Homo sapiens: one gene and its partner. The protein of the gene in region 1 interacts with the protein of each later gene in a pairwise test. Each region holds a gene or a part of one and is shown on either strand. Other genes may lie near its edges.

Evidence for each region.
Region 2: the proteins of KCTD4 (region 1) and EFHC1 interact in binary tests that used the Homo sapiens proteins (3 or more experiments, as listed by UniProt).

What each region holds. Positions count from the first base shown.
Region 1 is NC_000013.11:45,197,470-45,206,279, reverse strand, and holds the start of KCTD4 (BTB/POZ domain-containing protein KCTD4), read left to right. Parts: upstream 1-5,234; 5' UTR 5,235-5,456; intron 5,457-8,810.
Region 2 is NC_000006.12:52,422,632-52,431,284, forward strand, and holds part of EFHC1 (EF-hand domain-containing protein 1), read left to right. Parts: intron 1-1,055; exon of another isoform or gene 1,056-1,177; coding exon of another isoform or gene 1,178-1,183; intron 1,184-1,314; coding exon 1,315-1,536; intron 1,537-8,653. UniProt on the Homo sapiens protein: Microtubule inner protein (MIP) part of the dynein-decorated doublet microtubules (DMTs) in cilia axoneme, which is required for motile cilia beating.

The DNA of each region.
Region 1 (8,810 bases):
TTTAGTGATCTTTGGATGTCTCCAAAATCTAGGAGACTCTGTACGAACTAATTACAAGCACACCGTATATAATCAATGTATCCAGGGTCCCTTAATGCAACATATGCAACAAATCTCAAGAAGATGCAGAAAAAGCAATGATGAGAAGCATGACTACCTTATACCAAAATATGGCAGGAAGAAAATATTTTAAAAGCCGTTATTATTTTATAATAAAGTTTAAATTCTAAAAATAATTTCCTCTCATTAAAGTCTTTAATAAAATTAAAATTTGAATTTTCTTAAAGCAAAAAGCTTATATTCAAGTTTGGCTCTTGCTGAAGCTGAAAGTTCTATCAAGAAAAATTCTTTAGTCGTCACAACAATAGCAAGATTTGGGAAAATCTGATATATCAAATGTCTTAAATGCATAAGGAAAGTCCAATAAAGGAAGACAATTAATCCTTTAAAAAAATAAATCTAGGTCGGCCACGGTGGCTCACAGCTATAATCCCAGCACTTTGGGAGGCCGAGGCAGGCAGATCATGAGGTCAGGAGATCGAGACCATGCTGGCCAACATGGTGAAACCCTGTCTCTACTAAAATATAAAAAATTAGCCAGGCATGGTGGCACACACCTGTGGTCCCAGCTACTCAGGAGGCTGAGGCAAGGGAATCGCTTGAACCCAGGAGGCAAAGGTTGCAGTGAGCCAAGATAGTGCCACTGCACTCCAGCCTGGCAACAGAGCAAGACTCCGTCTCAAAAAACTAAATAAATAAAATAAATCTAGACTACTATCCCTGCAAATAATTTAGTCACATATCCACGTTTATTAATGTTGCAACTAAAAGAGCTACTGATATGGTCTGGCTCTGTGTCCCCAGCCAAATCTCATCTCAAATTATAATCCCCACGTGTCAAGGGAGGGAAGTGACTGGATCATGGGGCAGTTCCCCCTATGCTGTTCTCGTGATAATGAGTGAGTTCTCACTGGCAGCTTTTTCCTGTGCTCTCACTTCTCCCTCCTGCCACCTTGGTGCCTGCTTCCCCTTTGCTTTCCACCATGAATGTAAGTTTCCTGAGGTCTCCTCAGGTATGCGGAACCGTGAGTCAATTAAACCTGTTTCCTTTATAAACTACCCAGTCTCAGGCATTTCTTTATAGCAGTGTGAAAATGGACTAATATAGCTACCTTTTACTAAGTGAATGCTCCCCACTTATTTAGCAGTACCTACTCCAGGTGGACAGGCTGAATTTAACTTTCAGTTAAAGGTTTGTGCTATCAACCTTCTCCATATGACAGCTCAAGGGTAGAAATCAGGTCCACAGCAACTGCCCATTACAACTTGGCCACCAATCTCCTCACTATTCTTCAGTCAAGGTCACTCACACAGAGCAATAACATTTACTTTCTCAAACCATAATTTTCTATCATATCTTCTTTTCAAACCTAAAATAGCTTCCAAATGCTACTCAAAGTGAATGGAAAAGTCTTCATCAGCAACGAATTTTCCCATCCACTGGATGTTCCTAAGTAACCTGACATCTCTGTTCACTTCCTTTCTCCCCTTCTCTTCTTAAATACATTTTTAAAAGGCCAATTTACTCCTGATGCAGCCCCCTAGGCATGATTTGCCTGCTCTCTTTTTAAAGCCTCATAGGAACACATTCTCATATTCTTTCCACTAAACCACACTTCTTGTCTTTTTCAAAATACTGCTTAAGATTTCAAAGGAAAGGTATTAAATTTTATTTTAAAAGTATTTAAAAGCACCCACTTGCACATTACTGCTGTTAATTATAGATCCTATTCATTAATATAGAAACCTTTACTTAAAGCTAGTTTGTTGACCCAGTTTAAAAGACCATAAATACTTGAAAAATAATTCATTTTATTCTCACACATTTCTTAACTATTTACTGAGTGCCTACTATGTAAAAGACAATGCAAGAGCACATCAGGAATAACAAATGAAACACGGCTCCTACCCTCAAGGAGCGTAGACTTTCTTAAACGTTCTGTGGCATGTATTAGTTAAAAAGTATAGATATGAATAGCTTGATTTAGCCATTCCACACATATACATATATCAAAACATCACGTTATATACCATAAATATACACAAATTTTACTTGTCAATTAAAAATAAGCTTAAAAAACCTAAATTTAAATGTTTTTAAAAGGAAAAATGTATAGACTCCCAAAAAACCTGTTTATAAGTTTTAACTGCTGATATCTACCATATTAGAAACTAAAATTAAGAAATTTCTAGAGAATGAGAGTGAAAAAATAAAAAAAAGCCATTAGCATTATTATAGAAATGGTCTTGACATCATTGATCCCTTGAAAGGATCTCGGGGACCCCTCTGCCCAGTGGTTCCCAGACCACATTTCGAGAGCTGCTGGTCTCGTAGGATAAGACAGGTACATAAATCATCTTAATACACCAGAAGCACTTTTGATACACCTCTACTTAACTCACCTCTAGATTAACAAAGGCTCTCAACTGCCTGCTATTAAATATAGCGACAGATGCCCACAGTCACTATATACTAGTGGGTAATAGGTTAATCTCTAGTACTCCCACACACGTCTGCTCAAACGATGCTAGAACTTGTCTATATTAGTTTTAATAATTATGTAATCTGATTATATATTACAGAAGCCCATTAAATTGCAAGTATGAGGGGAGTTTGGGGGGTGTTTCTATAAAAACTATGTAGAATGCTTTGGTAAGATGATATAAAGTTAAGTTGTAACACAATACTGTCAAATTAGGTACAGGTGAGACAACTGGAGACTGAAAGGGAAGCACAGGAGTCTAGAAAGAGTCTGCATTTAGATAGTTTCACAGTGTCTAAGTTCTTGCTCCTTTTCAAAGAAACCAAAATCGAAAATCTAAACTAAATCATGGGGCCAGGTGCAGTGGCTCACGCCTGTAATCCCAGAACTTTGGGAAGCCGAGGAGGGCAGATCACTTGAGGCCAGGAGTTTGAGACTAGCCCAGGCAACACAAGGAAACCGTCTCTCTACTAAAAATCCAAAAAAAAAAAAAAAAGGTGGGCGTGGTGGTGCATGCCTGTAGTCCTAGCTATTTGGGAGGCTAAGGCATGAGAATTGTTTGAACTCTGTAGGTAGAGGTTGCAATGAGCTGAGATCACATCACTGCACTCCAGCCTGGGCGACAGAATGAGACTGAAAAACTAAATGATGGGTTTAATTTTTGAAAAACAAAGAAAACAGATGGTCAGTCAGTATCCTATATTCAAAGCAAAGGCCTTGTCTTACATATACATCAGCAACTAAATGTACATTTATTTTATTTTATTTTATTTCTGAGATGATGTCTCACTCTGTCACCCAGGCTGGAGTAGCTGGAGTACAGTGGTGCAATCTCAACTCACTGAAACCTCCGCCTCCCAGGTTCAAGCAATTCTCATGCCTCAGCCACCTGAGGTGCTGGGATTACAGGCGTGCGCCACCATGCCCAGCTAATTTTTGTATTTTTAGTACAGCCAGGGTTTCACCATGGTAACCAGGCAGGTCTTGAACCCCTGACCTCACGTGATCTGCCCACCTCGGCCTCCCAAAGTGCTGGGATTACAGGCGTGAGCCACCGTGCCCAGCCAACTAAACGTACATTTATAAGTTTTAAGATAAAATGTTTAAGGCAGATAGGAACTGCATATTGATATCATTTTTATGATTTCCCATCTTTTAATGTAACTGACCAATTACTGGTTATTCCATATGTGCTGTAGGATTCTTCTGTCAAGTTGAATATGTTAAAGGTCATAAAATAGAAACATACAAGAGTACTGGGATTAAACACACATGTACTTGCACACACACACACACCCACTCAGATGTCTAGCTAGAGATCAAGAAGAGTTTTTTGTTTTGTTTTGTTTTGAGATGGAGTCTCGCTCTGTTGCCTAGACTGGAGTGCAGTGGCGCGATCTTGGCTCACCGCAACCTCCGCCTCCTGGGTTCAAGCGATTCTCCTGCCTCTGCCTCCTGGGTAGCTGGGATTACAGGTATGTGCCACTGCGCCAGGCTAATTTTTGTATTTTTAGTGGAGATGGGGTTTTGCCATGTTGGCCAGGCTGGTCTTGAACTCCTGACCTCTGGTGATCCGCCCACCTCAGCCTCCCAAAGTGCTAGGATTACAGGTGTGAGCCACCACGCCAGGCCAAGAAGAGTTTTGAAGAATAAGCAATGATTGTGCTGGACCTTGAAAAATGGGTAGGATTTAGACTGGGGTGGGTGGGGGTAAGAAGGAAGAGTACTGAAGGTGGTAGGAATGGCCTCTGTGTGTCTGTGCTTGCTCGCTCTTGTGCTTGAAATGTTCAACTAAGGGGCTCACACCACCAATTACTAGAAGGACATGGTCTTGCCAGCACTCTGCAGAGAAGCCACACAAACTCATCCTACCAAAGGCTTTGGAATGGCTCAATTCATATCTTTTCCTTGGCCATTTGCTCTTCTTTGGATTCTGGGAAATAGTATGGGATTCTTTCTAAATTCTCCCCCGCACTCCTTTTTTGGCTAGATTGGTTTGTTGACTGGTTTCTGCTACTTGCAACCAAAAGAATCTTATTGAGTATGAACACACATCTTTGATGATGGTAATTTATGTATATCCCACCACCTAAAATCAGAAAAAACTCGAGAGAAAATTTTAAAGGTTATGTATATAAAGCACATCCTATAAAAAGAACTGAAGGCTTCTAGTTAAGATTCTGTCACTAAACAGCAGTGTTACTTTGGAGAAGTTATTTTACATCTCTGGGCCTCAGCATCCATAATAATGATATTACTAGAATGTCTGAGATCTCTTCTAGGTCTCTTTCACTAAATAAAAATGCTAGCCTTCCTCTCCAACTGGGGATGTTTTATTATTTCATTAGTGTTATTTTGTTTGCTCTAGTACTTTCCAAAAGACCTAGATATAATTAAATTTTCTTTGAATAGAAAGAGAATAACAAAATGTTAAGAAGCTGCCCAAGGCTTGAAAATATTTAAATTTGTGCTCTATGCTGGATTATCCTGCCCTATATCTGAACTTGACATACACTCTATGTCAAAGAACTGAGGAGAAATGATACTGGCACTTTTTTTAAAAAGTTAAGGGCATCCCTAGTTTGAAGAAGTTAAAGGAATAAGCAAGCAGCAACACTGCTTATTAGCATTGGCATGTAAGTAATGAAATCAAGTATGTTAGGAAGTCTTAGGCATCAGGAAGTTACACTCATTCATTTCCACAAGACCTTCTGGATCCAGCTGAATGTGGAGGCCTTTAAGAGAACTTCCAGCTCCTGTAAAAACCCAGACCAGAGGACTACTGACCAACATTTCAGGCTGATCCTCCAGACCTCGAAGTTACTCTCCTTACTCTCCTGACTCTTAATTACATCACACCTGTGTCGACACTCTCTGGGAAAAGACTGAAGAAATAATCTTTTCAAGAAGCAGGTACATTTAAAAGGCAAACCATTTTTAATATTCCTAGTAGTCTCCTTTCTTCTCATTTAAAATATGTTCCTAGAAGTTTTTTTGCCTGTGGTTCTGAGTTGAGGTCTACTAATAAAAGGTACTAGCATCTTAACAAACCAGTTAGGCAAACTTTCTATCCCTGTATTATTAAAAAGCTGCTCTTTACTTGTGAAGTAATATTCTGATCTCTATTTGATCTTCAGGAATTTTGCCACGCATGGTGGCTCACATCTGTAATCCCAACACTTTGGGAGGCTGAGGCAGCAGCATAGCTTGAGCCCAGCCTGGGCAACAAAGTGAGACCCAGTCTCCACAAAAAGATAAAAAAGTTAGCCAGGTATGGTGGGGTATGCCTGTGGCCCCAACTATACGGGAGTTTCCTAAGGCAGGAAGATCACCTGAGCCCAGGAGGTTGAGGTTGCAATACACTCCAGCCTGGGTGACAGAGCAAGACCCTGTATCAAAAAATAAAATTTAATTTTATAAAAGTTATAAAATAATTTGCCTAATTTTAACATCAAGCAGCCACATTGTTTTGTCTCTCCCTCTCTCTCTCATCTCCCTGCAAAATTCTTTCCCTCCTCCCTGTCTGTTAATTTTACTTTCTTGTGATACGGAGGGAATAGCTCACAGAGCTGCTCAAATATTTCATCAACTATAAGATGCTATCATTTGTAATAGCAACCATTATTTTACGTGCCACCAAGACAAAATACTGCTGCTAAACTTTGACAAGCTAACGATATTAAGATGTACCTCAGTTATAGAAATGGTAAATATGAAAAAAATGTGTGATATGATAGAGTTCTCCATCCCTAGTTTATAACTCCTCCCTACTCTGTAAGAAACCACATTTGCTCCCTTGAGCCATCACATCCTGTTCTCCTGTTCAGATCCTCTTCTCTCTTCTCCACACCACCTCATCACTGAAGACACAAGCAGATGTTAAGTGATGAGAAAATCAGAAGGAACAGTGGCAGGCGCTAGTATACGGTAACAGAGACCCTCTTTAGTCATTTACTTCCTAACTGTACTACCTTTACAAGAGTTTTCAAAGTTATGCCCTTCATTTTGAGATTGTAGATAATGGTTATTAGCTTAAAATATCTTCTTCCCAAAGAGAAAGTAAAATTGCATTTTGCCAAATAGCACTATAAAAATGAGTTCTGTACAATATTATAATTTTAATGTTCATTTGATGGCTTACATAAGTGCTATGCTCATCTGGTTACAATAGAATTTTCCAGTAAATAATAACGCACAGGTTATATTTCAAAAAAAAACTTCATTTTTAAAAAACTTAAGGTATGACTTCTGCTTACAAAATTATAAAACACAGGTTTCCCTGAAATACTCATTTTCCAAAGTACATGTAAAACATGAATTAATATGACTTATAAATTGTCAAGATTGCCTCTGTAGTGAAAATCAAAGAAATGTGGAATGGAATTTCACCTGAACTTCTGAGCTAGTCTGTTGTCTTTATTTGTGCTCCTTTTGACACATAGTGCCTTATGTTTTTCTATACTCCTCAAATGAAGCTAAAACATTTACCAATGTAGGCAATTTTCCTGGGCTTCCTTGAAGACGCAGTTCAACACTGCAAAATATTTACAGCTGTATTCTTTGGACTGCAATGACATGTTCACACGACCTTGTGGCCAGAGGTTACGTCCTATTAGTCCTAGGAAGGTTCAAGTACTTGGCACAGTTTGTGAGATGCTGTGGTCAATCAGTTACATAAAGTGGCTGCCATAGTACTTTTGTTAGTGTAATACCAGTAGCAGACAACATTTAGAGCAGATAAATTTTATATTTCAAAATAGAACTAAAATTTGGACACTCAAAAAGAATTACATTAACATGGGAAAATCCTTGATTCTTAAAACATGTCAATAATTAGACAGTGTAATTTTTATTTTTAACACACAAAAGAAGCCAACACAAAATATTCATACCTCAATATCAAAATGAATGTTTCTTACATTCAGTGCTATTGACAAGAGGCAATGAAGCAAGTACATGTTAAAAAAAAAGAAACTCAGCTTGTGAAAGGCAGAGGAAGGTCAAAACACAGATCAATAAACAAAAAAACAAAAAAAAAATGTGGGCAAGTCCAAGGCAGAGATATACTGTCAGATTTAAGTAAAAAGTTGACAGCAGCTTCTCTAGCTTTTACTTTCTTTCTAAGGTAATGGGAATGAAATCCTTTTAAAAGACAAGCAGAGAAGCATGCAGCTGACAACAACCAAGATTTGATAGCAGGGGAGAATGTGGAGACAGAAGCTCCCTGTTCTTATCAAACGCAGCTTCTAAAACCATTCCTTTTCCTTGAAGAGTGTCTGAATTTTATAGAGGAATGATCTGTTAAGTCTAGGAGAATTATCATACTTTTTGTATCTTCCAGTCGGGAGGGATAACCTCCTGGTAAGGTTTCACTTCCTTCCATGGCATGGGAGTATCTCTGGCATATAAATGGAGCAAGTGTATATATTACAATGATGTCCTGCATCAATCACGGGATGACAAAGACCTCATTTCCCATAAGGAGTTGGTAAAAAGATGGGAATTCCTGCTGGAATGAGTTCTGCCTTATGCAGATGGTAGGACATTAGTATTACCTCATAGTGGAAGGTTCTGCCAGAGTTTAGTTAGGCATTGGACCCAATTAACTATAGGATATACTCATACTAAGGACCAGTTTAAATTCTCAAAGTTGGTTATATATGATTAAAGCTGTCTAAGACAGAGGTGATCTAACTCTAATAAAGAGTTAAGGTACTGAGTAGGAAACAGGACCCCAATCTTTCAAATTTTTATATGTTTTTGCCTGCAAAGGCAGATAAAATCTTCAAATCTAGTGGCCAAGTGGATCCAGGTAAGCTAATCTTTGACATGTGTGGTTTAAACCCTTCTGCTGAAACCATTAAATTGAGCAGTTCCGGTTTGTATCTGCAAGGCAGAGAAACATAGTCCCATGATCCAGGGATGTCTCCCTTGGTATAGGTACTGAAGCACCATTTTTATAGTTTTAGGGCTGTGGAGACCTTACAGATATTACCTTGGACAAGCAACACCCACTCGCCACCCCCTAGCAAGTAAATATAAATTTAGAATAGACTAAAACGAGATAATCTGGCTTTCTCCTAAGGGGCATGTGTACCACCACAGGCAGCAATGATCAATGAACTCCTATAATTTCCATGAACTACAGTCATCTTGCTTTGCTGGAGGTAATATGGAGTATTAGGCATACAGCGGGGCCTACTGGGTGCCTTTTTTTTTTTTTTTTTGGAGACAGGGTCTTACTGTGTTGCCCAGACTGGAGTGCAG
Region 2 (8,653 bases), on another chromosome or scaffold:
TCTATGTATATATTTGAATATTATAGATAAGTAATTGTGAAAGTATCCTCACAACAGAAAAAGGAAACCATTAACATAACCTCTAATTTGCCTTTCTACTCTTTTTTATTTAATCTTTTAAATAAAAATGTGTTCATTGTAAAAAATCAACATAATTTAGAAATGTATAATACAGAGGACCAAACCAGTCTCTTCATGCACATATTTCCATGCTTATAATTGCAGTACACATATAATTTTATATGTTGCTTTTTCAGGCTTATTAAATCATAAATATTTTCACCAGGTTGCCACGTGATCTCTAAAATCAATATTTTAATGACAGCACCATAATCCATTGAGTGAGTTTTCGATCATTTACTCATGTCTTCATATGACTGTCTTTTAGATTGTCTTCAACATTTACCATTGTAATGGGCAGCTTCAGGCATATAGTTCTTTCTCATAATTCTGAATCATATTCGTAAATAAATGGTCGGGGTAGAATTATTGAGTTCAAGACTTTAAATATATACCATCCAGTTGCTTTCCAAAGAGTTGTAAGAATGTATCACTGTCATTGTGACAAGAGGGACAGGTAAAAATAAATTCATTCCATGTAAAAATAAAATTCACAGAACCGTATCTTCTAGGTTCTACAGTTTTTACGGCCCCAGATATCAGATGAAAAACATGAGAAGACTAGTGAAAAACTTAAGAGTATAGATGAGATACTCTTTTAATCTCTCATGCAAGGTGAATTGGTAGTTAAATTGGGCATTACAGAGCACAGCTTTAAATTTTACTTTAAGCTTAGGTGGCTACTTCGCTCCTTGTTCTTGTTCAAGTGTTTTAACTTAAAATACAGAATCTTTTAATGTAGGTAAGCTTTTGTTTTGTTTTGTTTTTTTGAGACAGAGTCTCACTGTTGCCCAGGCTGGAGTGCAGTGGTTCAATCATAGCTTATTGCAGCTTGGACCTCCCAGGCTCAAGTGATCCTTCCACCTCAGCCGACTATAATAGGCACAAGCCACCACACCCAGCTAATTTTTTTTTTTTTTTTTTTTTTTTTTTAGTTTTTGTAGAGACAGCATCTTGTTGCCCAGGCTGGTCTCGAACTCTGGGGCTGAAGTGATTCTCCCTCTTCAGCCTCCCAGAGTTCTGGGATTATAGGCACGAGCCACCATGCCCAGCCTTAATGTTGGTAAGCTTCTTGATGTAAGTTTTGTGATGCTTATAAGCAAAGATTCAAGTTATATTTTTAAAAGTTAGTTTTTTTTTTACCTAACAAATATTTGTCTAATGTTATTAATGACACATTCTTTTCTTCTTCAGAAAACAGCCTTCCACAGAAGTCAGACGCTGAGCTACAGGAACGGCTATGCAATTGTTCGACGTCCAACAGTTGGGATAGGCGGAGACCGGCTCCAGTTCAACCAGCTGTCCCAGGCTGAGCTGGATGAGTTGGCCAGTAAGGCACCAGTCTTAACTTATGGCCAACCTAAACAAGCCCCACCTGCGGATTTTATTCCTGCGCATGTGGCCTTTGACAAAAAGGTATCATCTGGAATTTTAGGGTACCCCTTGAATTAGGGTCTGAGAGCCAACTGCTTGCAAAAAAGTTAAAACAGTAAACCACAGAATTTCCAAAGGGCTCTGAGGAGAAAATTGTTCAGATGCCTTAACCCTTAGTCATGGACAGCTGAACTCAGGCTAAAAAGAGGCTTTCTTTAGTCAGGAAGCTGATTACAGGGAGTAAAGTAGTTCCCTGTAGACTTCACCAGACTATTTTCCAAATGCAGTTAAAGAAAAGTTGGCTATAATTCTGAATTCTTGAATTTATATTCTATGTTTATCAGCCGTGTGTTCTCCACTTTTTAAAGGTAACTGTATTCTGTAATGGTGACATATCTAATCTTCATGAGATGCAGAATATCATTATGAAAACAATGACTCCATCTATTGTCAGTTTTCTGCAAGGCAGTCTCCATAAGTTTTTGGTTTTCAGGGAACATTTCATGTTTGATATTACATAACCAATGGGTGGTATAACATTTTTGTTTGTTTCTCATTTATCTTTATGTTTTTGCAATGTGAGTTTCCTCATTTCCATCTATTGACATTACCACATCATTCTTGTTTTTCCTTGTCAATGAGCCTCCTCTTTTCACTAAAGTGAAGTAGCCCTAGCCCTGACCATGTAGCAGAATCACTGGCGAGATTTTTAAGAAAGTTACGTTATTCCAACCCTCATCAGTTCTAATTTCCAGATGAGCTTTATGTGTAACTGGTTCTGAGAAGTACTGATCAGTTTTGATAAGTTAGCTTTCTTAATTTACTCTTAGTCTGTTTCTTTTCTTGTCTTAATTTTTATTTTATTATTCCTGTTAAATGTCTATAACATTTTCATCCAGCCAGCCAACTTTTATTGAGTACCTGTTGTAAGCTAGAGGCTGGGGAGGAGCTATGCCATTTACATGATAGTCACTTATTTTTAAACAATTTCAGTCTCTCAACTAGAATCTGTATCATTTCCTCTTCCCCACTTAACTCATTTATAGGGACACATTCACATATGCATTCATAGGCCGAACCTAAACATCCACTAAACAGTATGATTTATATAATTGGATGTATCTTTTCCTTTTGCTTGTTTCTTTTGTTTATTTGTGGCTTTGACAGACATTGCAAAATCAGCAGAGAAGGGAGAGGGCTGAAAATACAAGAGAGAAGTGGGATAGGCACTAAATAATTACCAAGATATGAATCCTGGTATGTTTAATTTTTACTGAAAAGAATAGTAAGTAACTGTTATAAAGTAGAAGGTGATAAAGTGATATATGTCGTAAGAAAGTATTAGTAAAATTCAGAGGAGAAATTGCGCTTGAGTAGGAAATAGGCTTCCTATTTTTTGTTTTCTATGTTATTTTACACTAATTGTTGTTACTTAATTTGTACTTATTTAATATTCATAATTCATTTCTTTAAGGATAGTGCACATAAAAATATTATTTTTATTTTCCAATTCATTTTACTTGGATCATCACAATTTCTAGATAAATGAGCCTTAGCATAGATAATGGGGTAGAGAGAAGCTAAATGCATGACTTTGAAACTAAGTTTGTTTGTTTATAATAAGGGAATTATGGTTTCTCTGAATTAAATGAAGGTTCTAATTTTAAATGAAGGACCTCTAATACCCAGAGGTCCACATAATAGCCAACATATTTGTCTATATTTTGGAAATTCTTAGGACTGTTCCTCATAGACAGAATATAACTTCATTTCTTACTTAGGTAATAAAGACCAGGACATCTATTCCAAGTGCCCTCATCTTTTCCCCTTGCTCCTGTATAATTCCAGCATCACCTACTATATTGTGTTTCCCAGACTGACTTCCAGCTCTTTATTTCTGATGTTCTTCTTTCATCTTTTTCATCTTCAAGTTTCATATTATTTCTATTTCAGACACTCTAGTGACTGCTTCTCTAGCTAGAGTCATATCATCCTGTCCTCTTTCTATAATACCTTGTGATGCCTTTAAGCAAGATAACTTTGTTTCTCACTTGACTGTCAAATCACTTACAATCTGACTTCTCCCTACCCACAGCCCCAGAATACTTTCTCCTAGGTAGCCAGTGCTGTCCTTTTACCAGATCTAGAGAGGTTTACTTTGCCAGCATTGTCTTTGGCTTGTTTATGCCATCTGACACTGTTGACCCTTCCTCCCTTCTTGAAACTGTGCTCTTCTTTTGCCTCCATGACTCTCATTTTCCTCCTTCTTTCTATGTGGTTGCTTATTCTTTAGCCTCCCTTCCTCTTTTCAATTCTTAACTTACAAGTATTTTCAAGGCTCTATCTCATTCTTTATATAATTTTCTTGAGATCTCACCCACTTTCGTGATTTCAACCGTCACCTCACCGTAGAGAATGTCACTATTTAGTTCCAACTCTGACATCATTGAGACTCCAGATCTGTATCCCCCTGGCCCATGGGATATCTTCACCTGGATGAACTGTTGGTACCTCAAGTTCTGTATGTCTCTAACTTATCTCTATCCCTCACCTTTTCCCATAGATCTGCTTTCCCTGTGTGGTTCCACTAGGTAATCCAAGCTTGAAACCTGAGCCATCTTTGGCTTTTTCTCTCCTTTATCCTCCACACTTAATGAGTTGCCAAGTCAAATATCTCTCACTTTCATTTCCTCTGCCACTATCATAGTTCAGACAAGCCAAATGACTACCTAACTGTTGTTTTAGTCTCATTCCTAGTCCTTATGCTTATAACAGGTATGCTGCCTTGTTTATTCTCTAGAGTTCAGCTCTGATTATGTCATTTTTCTGGGAAAATGCCATCAGGCTTTCTTAACCAATACAGTAAACATTACCACCATTCACCTCACTGTGACATGAAAGTCATCTTTCATTCTTCTTTCCCCTCACAATCCACATCTAATCTATTAGCAAGTTCTATTGTTTCTGCTTCTAAAATATGTAACTAATTCATTTACTTATTTTCATCCTCACTATTACCATAAATTTATTTTCCACAGAGCAGCCAGGCTTATTTTTTGAAAATCAGATTATGTCACATACTGACTGAAACACTTCCATGGCTTCCCTATCATCTATAAAGATCCAACTCTACAGGTTCCTCACAGCCCTACTGGAGCTGGCCCTCCCTGCTCTCTCCCCAGCCTCATCTTGGGTCCTTTTTCTCACCTATCATGTTTCAATACATTGGATTTATTTTTACTGATTTCCTTGAAATGGCAGCATTTGAAAATTCCAATTCAGGGCCTTTTTGTACATGGCATTTCTCCTATCTGAAATAGCTTCCCCACCATCCTTAAGTGGCTGACTCCATCTTTCCTTTCAGTGAGGCTTTTCCTGGCCACTCTGCTATGGCAGTTCCTCCTCATTTTTCTATATCACTTCCCTCTCTTTTTTTTTTTTCCCCTTTGCAGCACTATATTATAATTTGTGTTGCTGATTTGTTTAGTGTTTATCTGTCCCACCTGAGTGTATACTTCATGAAGGTAAGGACTTATATAGTTTATTATATATTTAGTGCTCAATAAATATCAGTTCTAAAATGACATGAATAATTAACAAAATTTATTTCTTGTCTGTGTCACTGCTGAAAATTGGCAAGTCAAACACGTACCATATATGCTTATAATAATGTAAAATTAAAAATGTGACTTGGCTTTTTATAATTGTGTGTGATATGAAAATATTTATGCAGCATTTCCCCCCTTCATCTTGAAGTAAATACAAATATTTTTATGTTTATTGTGGCATTCTGAGCACTTCCTGGGAGTTAGAAGACCTGGATTCTAATTCTGGGTCTCCTACCAGCTAACATTGTGACCTTGTAGTCACAATCTCTAATTTCCTCGTCTATAAACTCAGAAGGTTAGAATACATGATAATCAGGAGCCCAGCCTGCTATAAAATTCCATGAAAAGTATATTTTTAAACACAGTATTTAAATATAATTTTTCTTTTCTTTCTACGTAACAATCAAGTTCTTATTCTACCTGGGAAAGCTGATGTTATCCCACTACTTTAAAAACAATTTTTTTTATTTCCATAGGTTACTGGGGAACAGGTCGTGTTTGGTTACATGAGTAAGTTCTATAGTGGTGATTTGTGAGATTTTGGTGCACCCATCACCCAGGCAGTATACAGTGCCCCCAATTTGTAGTCTTTTATCCCTCACCCCCTTCCCACCCTTTCCCCCTGAGTCCCCAAAGTTCATTGTGTCATTCTTATGCCTTTGCATCCTCATACCTTAGCTACCACTTATGAGTGAGAACATACAATGTTTGGTTTTCTATTCCTGAGTTACTTCACTTAGAATAATAGTCTCCAGTCTCATCCAAGTCACTGTGAATGCTATTAATTCATTCCTTTTTATGGCTAAATAGTATTCCATCATATATATCACATTTTCTTTGTCCACTTATTGATTGATGGGTATTTGGGTTGGTTCCATATTTTTGCAGTTGCAAATTGTGCTGCTATAAACATGCATGTACAAGTATCTTTTTTGTATGATGAGTTCTTTTCCAATGGGTAGATACCCAGTAGTGGGATTGCTGGATCAAATGGTGGTTCTACTTTTAGTTCTTTGAGGAATCTTCACACTTTTAGTTCTTTAAGGAATCTTCCATAGTGGTTGTACTAGTTTACATTCCCACCAGCAGTTCCCAGTTCATTGCATCCACACCAACATCTAATATTTTATGATGTTTTGATTATGGCCATTCTTGCAGGACTAAGATGATATCACATTGTGGTTTTGATTTACATTTCCCTGATCATTAGTGATGTTGAACATTTTTTCATATGTTTGTTGGCCATTTGTATATCTTCTTTTGAGAATTGTCTATTCATGTCCTTAGCCCACTTTTTGATGGGCTTCTTTGTTTTTCCTTGCTAATTTGTTTGAGTTCATTGTAAATTCTGGATATTAATCTTTTGTCAGATGTATAGATTATGAAGATTTTTTCCCACTCTGTGGGTTGTCTGTTTACTCTGTTGACTGTTCCTTTTGCCGTGAAAAAGCTCTTTAGGTTAATTAAGTCCCAGCTATATATCTTTGTTTTTATTGCATTTGCTTTTGGGTTCTTGGTCATGAAACCCTTGCCTAAGCCAATGTCTAGAAGAGGTTTTCCAATGTTATTTTCTAGAATTTTTATAGTTTCAGGTCTTAGATTTAAGTCCTTGATCCATCTTGAGTTGATTTTTATATAAGGTGAGAGATGAGGATCCAGTTTTATTCTCCTACTTGTGGCTTGCCAATTATCCCAGCACAATTTGTTGAATAGGGTGTCCTTTCCTCACTTTATGTTTTTGTTTGCTTTGTCAAAGATCAGTTGGCTGTAAGTATTTGGCTTTATTTCTGGGCTCTCTGTTCTATTCCATTGGTCTATGTGCCTATTTTTATACCAGTACCATGCTGTTTTGGTAACTATGGTCTTATAGTATAGTTTGAAATCAGGTAGTGTGATGCCTCCAGGTTTATTCTTTTTGCTTATTCTTGCTTTGGCTATGCGGGCTCTTTTTAGGTTCTATATGAAGTTTAGGATTGTTTTTTCTAATTCTGTGAAGAATGATAGTGGTATTTTGATGGGAATTGCATTGAATTTTTAGATTGCTTTTGGCAGTATGGTCATTTTCACAATGTTGATTCCCACCCTATCAGCATGGAATGTGTTTCCATTATTTGTTTCATTATTTGTGTCATCTGTTATTTCTTTCAGCAGTGTTTTGTAGTTTTCCTTGTAGAGGTCTTTCACCTCCTTGGTTATGTATATTTCTAAGTTTTTGTTTGTTTGTTTGTTTTTCAGCTATTGTAAAAGGGGTTGAGTTCTTGATTTGATTCTCAGCTTGGTCGCTGTTGGTGTAAAGAAGAGCTACTGATATGTGTATATTAATTTTGTATCCAGAAACTTCGCTGAATTCTTTTATCAGTTCTAGGAGCTTTCTGGAGGAGTCTTTAGGATTTTCCAGGTAAACAATCATATCATCAGTGAACAGTGACAGTTTGACTTCTTTACCTATTTGGATGACCTTTATTTCTTTCTGTTGTCTGATTGCTCTGCCTAGGACTTCTTCTAGTACTGTGCTGAAGAGGAGTGGAGAGAGTGGGCATCCTTATGTTGTCCCAGTTCTCAGAGGGAATGCTTTCAACTTTTCCCCATTCAGCATTATGTTGGCTGTGGGTCTGTCATAGATGGCTTTTATTACATTGAGGTATGTCCCTTGTATCAATTTTGCTGAGAATTTTAATCAGAAAGGGGTACTAGATTTTGTTGATTGCTTTTTCTGCATCTATTGAGATGATCGTGTGATTTTTGTTTTTAATTCTGTTTATGTGGTGTATCACATTTATTGACTTGCGTATGTTAAATCATCCCTGCATCCCTGGTATGAAAACCACTTAATCGTGGTGGATTATCTTTTTCATATGTTGTTGAATTCGGTTAGCTAGTATTTTGTTAAGGATTTTAGCATCTATGTTCATCAGGGATATCAGTCTATAGTTTTATTTTTTGGTTATGTCCTTTCCTGGTTTTGGTATTAGGGTGATACTGCCTTCATAGAATGATTTATGGAGGATTCCCTCTTTCTCTATCTTGTAGAATAGTGCCAATAGTACCAGTTTTTCTTTGAATATCTGGTAGAATTCTTCTGTGAATCTGTCTGGTCCTGGACTTTTTCCTGCTGGTAGTTTTTTAATTATTTCAGTCTTGCTGCTTGTTGTTGGTCTGTTCAGGGTATCTAATTCTACCTGAATTAAGCTAGCAGGGTTTTATCTTTCAGGAATTTATCTATCTACTCTAGTTTTCTAGTTTATGTGCGTAAAGGTGTTCATAGTAGCCTTGAATGACCTTTTGTATTTCTGTGGTGTCAGTTGTAATATCTTCCATTTTGTTTCTAATTGAGCTTATTGGATTTTCTCTCTTCTTTTCTTGGTTAATCTTGCTAATGGTCTATCAATTTTATGTAGCTTTTCAAAGAACCAGCTTTTTGTTTCATTTATCTTTTGTTTTTTTTGTTTGTTTATTTCAATTTCATTTGTTTCTGCTTTGATCTTGGTTATTTTCTTTCTTCTGCTGGGTTTGGGTTTGGTTTGTTCTTGTTTTTCTAGTTCCTTGAGGTG